3 linked regions of the Homo sapiens genome follow. The protein of the gene in region 1 interacts with the protein of each later gene in a biochemical or structural test. Each region holds a gene or a part of one and is shown in the gene's direction. Other genes may lie near its edges. The genes, in order: DENND5A, SHANK1 and ARHGAP21.

Region 1 (3,654 bases):
TAGTGGGAGAAGAGAGGTGATTAAATAAATATATAAAATATGTAGTTTGTAAGGTACTTAATAAGGGTTATAAAGAAAAATAAAACAGGGAAAGGGATAGTATTTGGGGAAGAGAAGTTCCAGTTTGTAATAGGGTGGTTAGGTAGGCATCCCTGAGTGACCTGTTAATATCTGTAGGAAAAGTATTCCAGGCAAAGGGCACAGGAAGTATAAACGGTCTAAGACAAGAATGTGCTTCGTGTATTCAAGAACCAGAAGCTGGGTGGATGGAATGGAGTGAATGAGCGGGAGTATAGTAGGAGATGGTGTTAGAGACTTAACTGGAGGCCAGATGGTATAGAATCTTGTAGGCCATTGTAAGGACTTTGGCTTTTACTCTTAAATGGCTCTTAGATAGCCATCAGAGTTTTCAATTTTTTTTACTTTTTATTTTAAAATAATTTCTAGCTACGGAAGATTCGCGAGGGGTATTCAAAGGACTCTTGTATAACCTATCCCAAATTCACCAATTGTTAACATTTTGCCACATTTGCTTTATTATGATCTCTGTGTGTGAACATAACTGAACCATTGAGAGTTATTGTGACTCCTAAATTCTCATGTGTTTATTTCCTAAGAATAAAAACATTCTCTTAAATAACTATCATTGATCAAATTTGGAAAACCTAACATTGAGACAATACTATATTAAAGTTTCTCTGGTACCCGATAATGTCTGTTATGATAATTTAAAAAAATTCCTTATTCAGGATCTAGTGCCATATCATGCATTGCTTTTAGTTGTGAGTTTCTCAGCTTTTGTCTTTCATGACATAGACATTTTTGAAGAGTACAAGCAAGTTATTTTATAGACTGTCCCTTAATTTGGTTTTGTCTGATGTTTTCATGATTAGATTCAGATTATAAATTTTTGCCTAAAATACCATAGAAGTGATGTGCTTCTCTCAGTGCATTATATTAGGAGGCACATACTGTCAGTTTTCATGATTACAGGAGGCAGGCATATGATGTCATTTTGTCTCATTTTTGGTGATACTAATCTGCTTACTTGGTTAAGATGGTGTCTGTGGTTTCTTAACTGGAAAGTTATAATTTTTCCCTTGGTAATTAACATGTAAGTCATGGGGAGATACTTTGAAACTAATTATTCTGTTCTTCTTTAAAGTTTTGCCTAACCATTTTTTTTTTAGTTTTTATTTTTTGAATTATATTTGCAGTTTATGGATGCCTAATAGTTTAGCATTTATTGATGATTCTATTCTGAATCAGTTATTTCAAGAATAGTAGCAAAAAGGTGATTTTCTTTTTCTTTTCTTTTTCCTTTTGAGACAGGGTCTCACTCTGCTGCCCAGGTTGGAGTTAAGTGGTGCCTTCATGGCTCACTGCAGCCTCGTCCTCCCATGCTCAAGTGATCCTCCCACCTCAGCTTCCCGTGTAGCTGGAACTACAGGCATGCACCACCATGCTTGGCTAATTTTTTATTTTTTGTAGACATGGGGTCTTGCTACATTGCCCAGGCTGGTCTCAAACTCCTGGGCTGAACCTCCTGCCTGGTTTCCCAAAGTGCTGGGATTACAGGCGCCACTGTGCCCAGCCTTAAAATTTTTTTTTTTTTTTAAAGAAATAGAGTCTTATTCTATCACCCAGGCTAGAGTGTAGTGGCACAATAATGGCTCACTGCAGTCTTGATATCCTGGACTCAAGTGATCTTCCCATCTCAGCCGCCTGAGTAGCTGGGACTACAGGTGCCCACCACCATGCCTGGCTAATTAAAAAAAAATTTTTTTTTTTTGTAGAGCTAGGTTCTTGCTTTATTGCCCAGGCTGGCAGAATAGTGGTTTTCAAACTTTATCTTTATTTATTAATTGGCATTATACCATAATGAAGAGTGTTTCTTTCTCCTTTGTTTATTATTGTATGGATTCATAGATTTTTATTTTACTCAGGTTATAATTCACTATAATTATTTATTTTGATGCTCAAATTTCCCAGATTTGGTCCATGGGCAAAGGAATGGACCTCCACAATGGCAGGGCTTTTGCTTTTTGCTCATTGATGGATTCCAAGCACTAAAACTGTGGCTGGTATATAAGGGTGCTCAATAAATGTTGTTAAATAAATGAATAACTTAGGCTTTTAACAGGATCACTCTGGCCATTATATTAAGAGTATATCCCCAAAGGGAGAATGGAAGAAAGCAAAGAGTTCCGTTAAGAGGTAATTTGTAATAATCCAGGTGAGAGGTGATGTCAGTTAGAACTAAGGAGATAACAGTGAAGTGGTGTGGAATGGTTGGGTTCTGGATATAGTTTGAAGGTGAAGTAATGGAAACTATGTTGAACTGAAGAGCACATACCTCATATAAAGTGGATAGCCGCTAATTAGCTCCAGTTAATTCCTTGTGGGTATACTGGCCTGATGTTACTAAATATTCCAATAATTGATGAGGACCCAGATTTTTTACATGAAATCTCTGATTTTTAAATATTGGCAATAATGTTCTTTTTAAACACTGCAGGCCAAACAAAAAGCATCTGCTGGCTGAATGTAGTTCCTGAGGCTTCACTTTGCAACTTCTAGTTTAAGATACGAAGTTAGAGCCTCCTCTCTCTGGGTGAAATATAGACTTGGACAAATCATATTGCTTTCCTAGCTATTTCTTGGCTGGAGCTTCATAAAAATACTTTGAAATGGAGAATTAGTTGAATAGGGAGGAACTTCTCTGGTTTAGAACAGAACAGAGAGGAGGAAACCAAACTATATAGAGTGTTAGAAGATACAGTAGGCTTTTAGGCATTGGGGGTGTTTAGAGGCAAGGAAAGGATGATTGAAACAAATATGATGAACATAATGGAAAAATAACATTCTTCCATCTGAGTTTCTTTTGTATTTCCTAGAATATGGGTTACTGTATCCATAATAAGAATTTTAGGAGGTTTGAATGTAATTGAGATGGTTAGTATGTAGAATTGAATTTAACTTAGGACCTAAAGTCAGGCTCAGCATGGACAAGAGAAAGCTTTTTTCAGAAATTCCTGGATATTGCTGAGCCTGGCTGAGGCCACAGTGGAGTGGATTACTTTTCATTGGATGTAAATTATGCTTTTTGTTGTTAATAGAGTGCTTTAAACAATTTAGGTTGGTTTTCTTGAAGTAGTTATATTAATGATCCAAGGACATCTTCCTTGTATGGATAAAAATCACTCTGGCCAAAAACAAGCTATCACCACTGCAGTTGATTTTGCCTGCTGCATGTCCTGCCCTCTGAATAGAAAAGAGGTGTTACATAGGGAAAAGGAATGCAGGCTGAATTGTAAGATTCTGAAAGTGTAACCCTTTGGAATGCTGAATTGGCAGTTTTAAGCAGTGTTTTCTTTTTGGTATAGGTCATTTTATTTACTTTTAGATAATATTTATTCTTTAGTCCATATAGAATTAGTGTTTTTTTAATAGCATAATTTTTAATTGGTTGTTAAAAAATTATTGTTACTTTTTTTGAGACAGGGTCTCATTCTGTCACCTATGCTAGAGTGCAGTGGCACAATCATGACTCACTGCAGCCTTGACCTCCCCAGACTCAGATGATCCTCCCACCTCAGCCTCCTGGGTAGCTGGGACTACAGGCATGTACTGCCGAGTCTGGCTAGTTTCTGT
Region 2 (3,654 bases), on another chromosome or scaffold:
CAATGACCCACAGCCCCGCGACAAGCGAGGACGAGGAACGCCACAGTGCCAGCGAGTGTCCCGAGGGGGGCTCAGAGTCCGACAGCTCCCCAGACGGGCCAGGTCGAGGCCCCCGGGGGACCCGGGGCCAGGGCAGTGGGGCACCTGGTAGCCTGGCCTCTGTTAGAGGCCTCCAGGGCCGCTCAATGTCCGTCCCAGACGACGCCCACTTCAGCATGATGGTCTTCAGGATTGGCATCCCGGACCTGCACCAGACAGTGAGTACCTGCCCACTGGCCAGCGGCAGGAGAGGGACAGTGCCCCAACCGACATGGGGAGTCCACTGGTGCTGGGTATCCTCCCAGGAATCACCCCCACACTCAGCTCCTGGCTCACTTCCCAACCCACCTCAGGCTCTCCTCTGGCCCCTGGCCCACCCTAGCCCCTATCTCTTCCCCAACCAGAAATGCCTTCGCTTCAACCCCGATGCCACCATCTGGACGGCCAAGCAGCAGGTGCTCTGTGCCCTGAGCGAGAGCCTGCAGGATGTGCTCAACTATGGCCTGTTCCAACCGGCCACCTCCGGCCGCGATGCCAACTTCCTGGAGGAGGAGAGGCTGCTGCGGGAGTACCCCCAGTCCTTTGAGAAGGGGGTCCCCTACCTGGAGGTGAAGCTTCCCCAACTCCTTCACTGATAAGAGAAGGCATGCCCTAAAACACATCTGCCCCCCACCCACTTTTTAACACACTCGAAACCTTAACGAGGGGGCACCCAGTGTGCGAGTCCAGACCTTCTAAGCATCACAGGGAAGTCAGAGAGTCCTGAGTTCAAATTACCATCTGTTCTGCTTCTGACCAGCTAAGTGGCCTTGGCCAAGTCACTTTCCTGCCCCAAGCTTCTCCTCACCCATCAAATTGGGGGAGGATTCCCAATTACAGTAGGCACTCTAGAACATTCCCTGTGGGGTCCAGACTCCTCCTCCTTCAAGGCAGGGGTTGCAGTGCACATATACCATAATACCCAGCACTGTCGGAAAAGCCACTGCCACCCATCTACCGCCTAGACCAAGGTTCCAGGGCTGTTTTCACTCCCACCCTGAGCTACCCCGGGGAATTAGAAGGGGATCAGACCTTCCCCTACCCCAAGCCTTCTCCCCAGGCCCCTGATTCCAAGTCTCTGTGTCTCTCTCACTACCCTACCCTTGACCTCAGTTCCGATACAAGACCCGAGTTTACAAACAGACCAACCTGGATGAGAAGCAGCTGGCCAAGTTGCACACGAAGGTGAGAAAACCCTGCTGGCATCTATCCCCTATAGCCCCCTACCACTGGAGCCCCCTACCCAACCACTTTCTCTCCCCACCTCTTCCCAATAGACCTCCACATTCCCCAAGCCAGCGATCCCTCTGGCCACTGCCCCCGCTTAACTTGGGATGCTGTACCACATTTGAGACAACCACAAATACCCCCCATTATCCCCATCACAACCCCTTCTTACTTTCCTCTTTTGCCCTTCATCCCTCTGCCTGGGCCCACATCATTCCCACCTGGCCTCCTTTGAGTCTCCCTTCTCTTCCCCTGCCTCCCCCCATATCCATCCAAGGCCTCTTTACTTCCCCACCTTGGCCTAGGACCCTGACACTGAAGGTCCTTCTGCCTAGAGTCTATTTCAAAGACAGGCTACATTTCTCCCAACCTCATAGCCTGAATCTCTGCAAAATCCAACCATTACACCCCCCTTTCCAGCCATATCTGTCCTCCTGGTACCTTGCCCGCCAGTCCTCAGCCCCTGTCTGTCCTGTGTCTCGATGGTGAGAGCTGGGAGGAAATCGGGAACTGCTTTGGTCAGAAATGAAGAACTCTTGATCCTTGAGAAGGAAAAACTCCCAGTCCCTCCTTGTCTACCCTCTCCCCACCACAGCATGCATTGAACTCTTTCCTCCCCTAAATGTTCCATCCCTCCAGACTTTCACGGTCCACTTTGGGAACCACTGGCCAAGTGTGGCTCCTGAGTGCTTGCAGTGTGTTTGGTCCCAACTAAGACTCGCTGTGAGTGTGAAATACACACTGGGTTTCAAAGACTTAGTACCAAAAAAAAGTTAAATAACCTCATTAATAATTTTCATCTCAATTACCTGTTGAAACAGTAACATTGTAGCTATATCAGTTAAATAACATATATCATTAACACGAATTTCAACACAACTAACACTTCACCCCCAACCACCCTGATTTTTTTTTTTTTTTTTTTTGAGACGGGGTCTTGCTCTGTCACCCGGGCTGCAGTGGTGCAATCATGGCTCACTGCAGCCTCAACCTTTCAGGGTTCAAAGGATCCTTCCAGCTCAGCCTCCCGAGTAGCTGGGACTACAGGCGTGTGCCACCACAACCTGGCTAGTTTTTTGCATTTTTTGTAGAGATAAGGGTCTCACTTTGTTGCTCAGGCTGGTCTCGAACCCCTGGGCCCAAGTGATCCTCCCGCCTCGGCCTCCCAAAGGGCTGGGTATTTTCTCTGTAAAGGAGGCTGCTAGAAGCTTTTCAATGGCGTATGTGACTCCACGTATATTTTCACTGGACGTCGCTGCTTGAGGACCCTGCTTCTCTGCCTTGCTCCTGACTGTCCTGTCTTCTCTCTCTTTGCCCATGGCTCAGACGGGGTTGAAGAAGTTCCTGGAGTATGTGCAGCTCGGGACATCTGACAAGGTGGCGCGGCTGCTGGACAAGGGGCTGGACCCCAATTACCATGACTCGGATTCGGGAGGTAGGGAGGGGTGCGCATCAGGAGGACCTCAGGGCCAGGACAGAGCTGGGGAGCAGGGGTGCCATCTGCATTCACATCCATTCCTGACTGGTGTCTCCCAAACACATTGCTGTCCAAGGGGGAGGCCACGGGGCCAGAGGCTGTGGGGTGGAGAGCTGCAGAGCCTGGAAAATGGGAAGGGATGGAGGGGAGGAGAAGGGGCTTCATGTGACCAGCTTTTCCCGCCCTTCAGAGACCCCCTTGACACTGGCGGCCCAGACCGAAGGCTCTGTAGAGGTGATTCGAACCCTGTGCCTGGGCGGGGCCCACATTGACTTCCGGGCCCGGGATGGCATGACCGCACTGCATAAGGCCGCATGCGCCCGACACTGCCTGGCACTCACGGTGAGGCTTCGGGGACCCCCCATCCCCGCCATGGGGCCCTCTCTCCTTTTCCCTTTGTTCTTTCTCAAACCTCAGTTCTTTGGTTTCAGTTAAAAATAGGCCCTCTCATGTCCCCAGTTCAAAGCCCCTTTCCATAGACTGAGACACAGCCCCTATTGTCACCCTTGTCAGGCCCCCCAGATGCACCCACCTGGGCTATAGCTGACATCACACAGACCCGGGCACGGCCTCCTCCCCTAAACACCCAGAACGTCTCCATCCCCTGTGGCCCAGCTTAATACCAAATCTGCCTCTGTCTCCCCAAGGTGTAAACCCTTCTCATTCCTTAAAATACGAAGTGAGCTCCCTGCTATGCCCCCAGATAGAGCCCCTCCACACACACCCTGAAAACAGCCCCCCAGCTACCCTTCCAAACCAGCACTGCACCAGCTCCCCTCCCTCCTCTCTCACATGCAAATACAGCCCCTTCCCCACGTACACAGCCTCAAATGCACTTTCCCAAATAGACAAACCCATACACCCACAAAATA
Region 3 (3,654 bases), on another chromosome or scaffold:
TTGATCCTTGGTTTCACTATCCTTAAAAATTAGTCAGTCACTAACAAATTCTGGCAGTCTGTTTTCATCTTTTATCCACCTATATTATTTGTTTTTCTTTTTGAAGAAAAATCACTTACACGTATATTTCTTAAATGCTGATCATTCTTTCTGGTATTAGAGAAAACACTGGCTGCTTCCTAGTCATTTATTTTAAATGGACGGATCAATTCAATAAGTATTGAACACATGTTACTTGCTGGTACTATCCTAGGTATCGCATGGATACAGAAAAGAAGCAAAACCCTTTGGCAATGTTGGGAGGCACTTGGAAAATCTTTCACACAGTGATGTTGAATAGAAGCTTTGAAACAGCTCCACTGAGAACAGATGATAGTAGTGTTTGTGTTAAATAAGCAAAGCAGTACAATAGAAAGCCTCAAAAAAGTAAGGATCACTTATTTATGTTTAGAATTGATTTTCTAATTTTACTTTATTCTGTAGGACACTGGAGTCACTAACAGGGATCTAATTAGTCGAAGAATAAAAGAATACAACAATCTGATGAGGTGAGAATCCCACCTTGCCTGCAGTTAATTTGGATATAAAATCAGTACAGTCATCCCCCTTATTTGCAAGGATACATTCCAAGACCCCCAGTGGATGCTTGAAACCGCAGATAGTACCAAATCCTCTCTACGCTATATTTTTTCCCATATAGTAATGGGCGGGTAGTGTATACAGTGTGGCTACTCGGGATGAAAGGATGATTCTTATTCTGGGCAGGACTACAAAATTGAAAGCTTATGAATTGTTTATTCCAAGAATTTTCCAGTTAATATTTTCAGACCATGGCTCACCACGGGTAACTGAAACCATAGATAGAGGGGGATTACTGTAATTGTTAACAAATGTCATTTCCTTCAACAGCAAAGCAGAACAGTTGCCAAAAACACCTCGCCAGAGTCTCAGCATCAGGCAAACTTTGCTTGGTGCTAAATCAGAGCCAAAGACTCAAAGCCCACACTCTCCGAAGGAAGAGTCGGAAAGGAAACTTCTCAGTAAAGGTATTGATGTTAGCTTTCTAACAAATAAATATAATGATTTAAAATTGGCATCGTTGAGGTACGTTTATGTTTTCTGTACCATTTCTACTGACCAGGCCCCATGTCAACTAGCTCAAAATTCATAGTAGGCTTGGTCTGGGCTCATTGGGCCTTTCCCTTTGTGAGGCCCAAGACACCAGCTTCATTATAAAGCGAAAGTGAGGGAAAATACAAACAATACTTAAATCAGAGACATTACAAATTTAAATGACTCCGAGGATTCAGGTCCTATCATTTTGAAATAAAACTATTACTTTTCCCTTTGTTGAAGTCTCACTATAAAGATGACACACTGATTCTATGTAGTTTTTTTTTTTGCTGTTTTAAAGAAAATTATAGCACGCATTATAAAAGAATGAAGTAAAAGTTATATGGAAGAGAACATATTTTTGTTAAATATAGGATGTATTATTTATATTACAGGACTTGGATTTATGTAAACATTGATAAAGTGTTTTTAAAGTCATGATTTAGACACTCATTTCCATTTTATTATGTTGTTTTATTTTGACTGGCAATCAAAAGATGATACCAGTCCCCCAAAAGACAAAGGCACATGGAGAAAAGGCATTCCAAGTATCATGAGAAAGACATTTGAGAAAAAGCCAACTGCTACAGGAACTTTCGGCGTCCGACTAGATGACTGCCCACCAGCTCATACTAATCGGGTAGGAGACACCAGCCCACCGGATTTCCTCAAGTCATTAATTCAGTTTTGATTATAATGGGATCTGAGTATATAGCCTTTCAGACAACAGAGACTGTCAATCTGTTTTCCTTTTCATAGCAGACCTTAGTTTCCCTAAGTATTTCTGACCTGTAATGCTTTTTTTCTAATGTATTGACTCCGAAATTGAATAATTATTCAACCATTAGGAATTTGTCTGAAATGGTCTGTAAGAATTCGTCTTCAAATCGTGTGTTTCTGCTTTTAGCATTTTAAAACAAGGATGAGAACAAGGACCTGATTAAGAAAGTATAATACATGTAAATGTATGTGCATATATTTAAAACACCCATGCTAGGATTCGTATCATGAATTGATATTACTCTCTCCTCCTCTTTTCTTGACTCTTTATTCAGCGGAACGGTTTCCACATTCTCTTTACCTGTTGTTACTTCCTTTTTAGAATGTTATCTCTCTGGGGGTCCCTCTCTTTCTTTCAGTCTCTTTGTTCTCTTCTTACTGTCTCAAATATCTCTTGCAGGTTTTATCTATTCCCAGATCTATAATGTCTGTATTCTTTATATTACATAACAGCAATTTATGTTTCCTTTTGGATGAAAGGGGCATTTTAGCTGTGATATACAACTACTAAACATTTGTGCTGCATTAAATAAAATGTTTATTTCTTGTTTTGCAGTATATTCCATTAATAGTTGACATATGTTGCAAATTAGTTGAAGAAAGAGGTCTTGAATATACAGGTATTTATAGAGTTCCTGGAAATAATGCAGCCATCTCAAGTATGCAAGAAGAACTCAACAAGGGAATGGCTGATATTGATATACAAGATGATGTAAGTTTGCTTATTTGAATAACTGATCCTTTTTTTTCCCCCTTTGGTGGAACTGGATATGAAAATACTATATTTCTATTTTGTACACCTAGAAATGGCGAGATTTGAATGTGATAAGCAGTTTACTAAAATCCTTCTTCAGAAAACTCCCTGAGCCTCTCTTCACAAATGGTGAGTTAACTCCCGTGAAAGATACCAGATGAAATGGTTCAAGTTACAATTGGAAAACCATAGAATATTAAATTGAACAAGGACAAAATGTCTTGGTCAAAGGAAGCAGGAGGCTTTATTTAGTTCTCCCTCATATATTAAAAACATAAAAGTTATTTAGGTTCAGTGAAATATGTATTATCTTGTTCATACATGTTTGCAGCCAAATTAATATTATTGTTTCCAGTCAAATGGCTTCTGACATCATAAGGTACAATGAGTAGAAAAATGTTTTTTCAGTCAAGCCAAGTATTTAAGTGCCATGTAAGACACTTTACTAGATGTTGTTGGAGGGTGGGGGAGGAATGGACAGGCTGTGTAAATATAGGATGGTTCCTGCAGGGAACTTACATTTTAGAAATTTACATTTCAAAACTATTAGAACTCTTTCCTATGTTGTGGTTTAAAATTGATCCTTAAAGGGAAACTAGATTACAATTCACCTAGGCAATTTAAGATAAATTTGTTTTATTGTTCTTGTCGTCAGATAAATATGCTGATTTTATTGAAGCCAATCGTAAAGAAGATCCTCTAGATCGTCTGAAAACATTAAAAAGACTAGTAGGTATTATTTTATATTTTGGGGGATACAACTAAAATTCAGCCTCTGAATCCATTGTGAAAATAATCTGTTTCAGATTCACGATTTGCCTGAACATCATTATGAAACACTTAAGTTCCTTTCAGCTCATCTGAAGACAGTGGCAGAAAATTCAGAAAAAAATAAGGTATGTAAAATGCTTATTGAAGAAATGTACTTTTAGTGGCTTTAGTTTAAAAGATATGCTTCATTACTTCATGCCAAATAGTCAATAAAAGGTTTGTAATTCAACATCAAA

Evidence for each region.
Region 2: the proteins of DENND5A (region 1) and SHANK1 interact in a test that uses a peptide from one of them, tested with the Homo sapiens proteins (one large-scale study listed by IntAct).
Region 3: the proteins of DENND5A (region 1) and ARHGAP21 interact in a test that uses a peptide from one of them, tested with the Homo sapiens proteins (one large-scale study listed by IntAct).

What each region holds. Positions count from the first base shown.
Region 1 is NC_000011.10:9,199,341-9,202,994, reverse strand, and holds part of DENND5A (DENN domain-containing protein 5A), read left to right. Parts: intron 1-3,654.
Region 2 is NC_000019.10:50,713,268-50,716,921, reverse strand, and holds part of SHANK1 (SH3 and multiple ankyrin repeat domains protein 1), read left to right. Parts: 5' UTR 1-2; coding exon 3-257; intron 258-443; coding exon 444-647; intron 648-1,191; coding exon 1,192-1,263; intron 1,264-2,631; coding exon 2,632-2,740; intron 2,741-2,972; coding exon 2,973-3,124; intron 3,125-3,654. UniProt on the Homo sapiens protein: Seems to be an adapter protein in the postsynaptic density (PSD) of excitatory synapses that interconnects receptors of the postsynaptic membrane including NMDA-type and metabotropic glutamate receptors via complexes with GKAP/PSD-95 and Homer, respectively, and the actin-based cytoskeleton.
Region 3 is NC_000010.11:24,594,839-24,598,492, reverse strand, and holds part of ARHGAP21 (rho GTPase-activating protein 21), read left to right. Parts: intron 1-483; coding exon 484-548; intron 549-909; coding exon 910-1,046; intron 1,047-1,610; coding exon 1,611-1,753; intron 1,754-2,449; coding exon 2,450-2,605; intron 2,606-2,697; coding exon 2,698-2,776; intron 2,777-3,302; coding exon 3,303-3,376; intron 3,377-3,453; coding exon 3,454-3,543; intron 3,544-3,654. UniProt on the Homo sapiens protein: Functions as a GTPase-activating protein (GAP) for RHOA and CDC42. Downstream partner of ARF1 which may control Golgi apparatus structure and function. Also required for CTNNA1 recruitment to adherens junctions.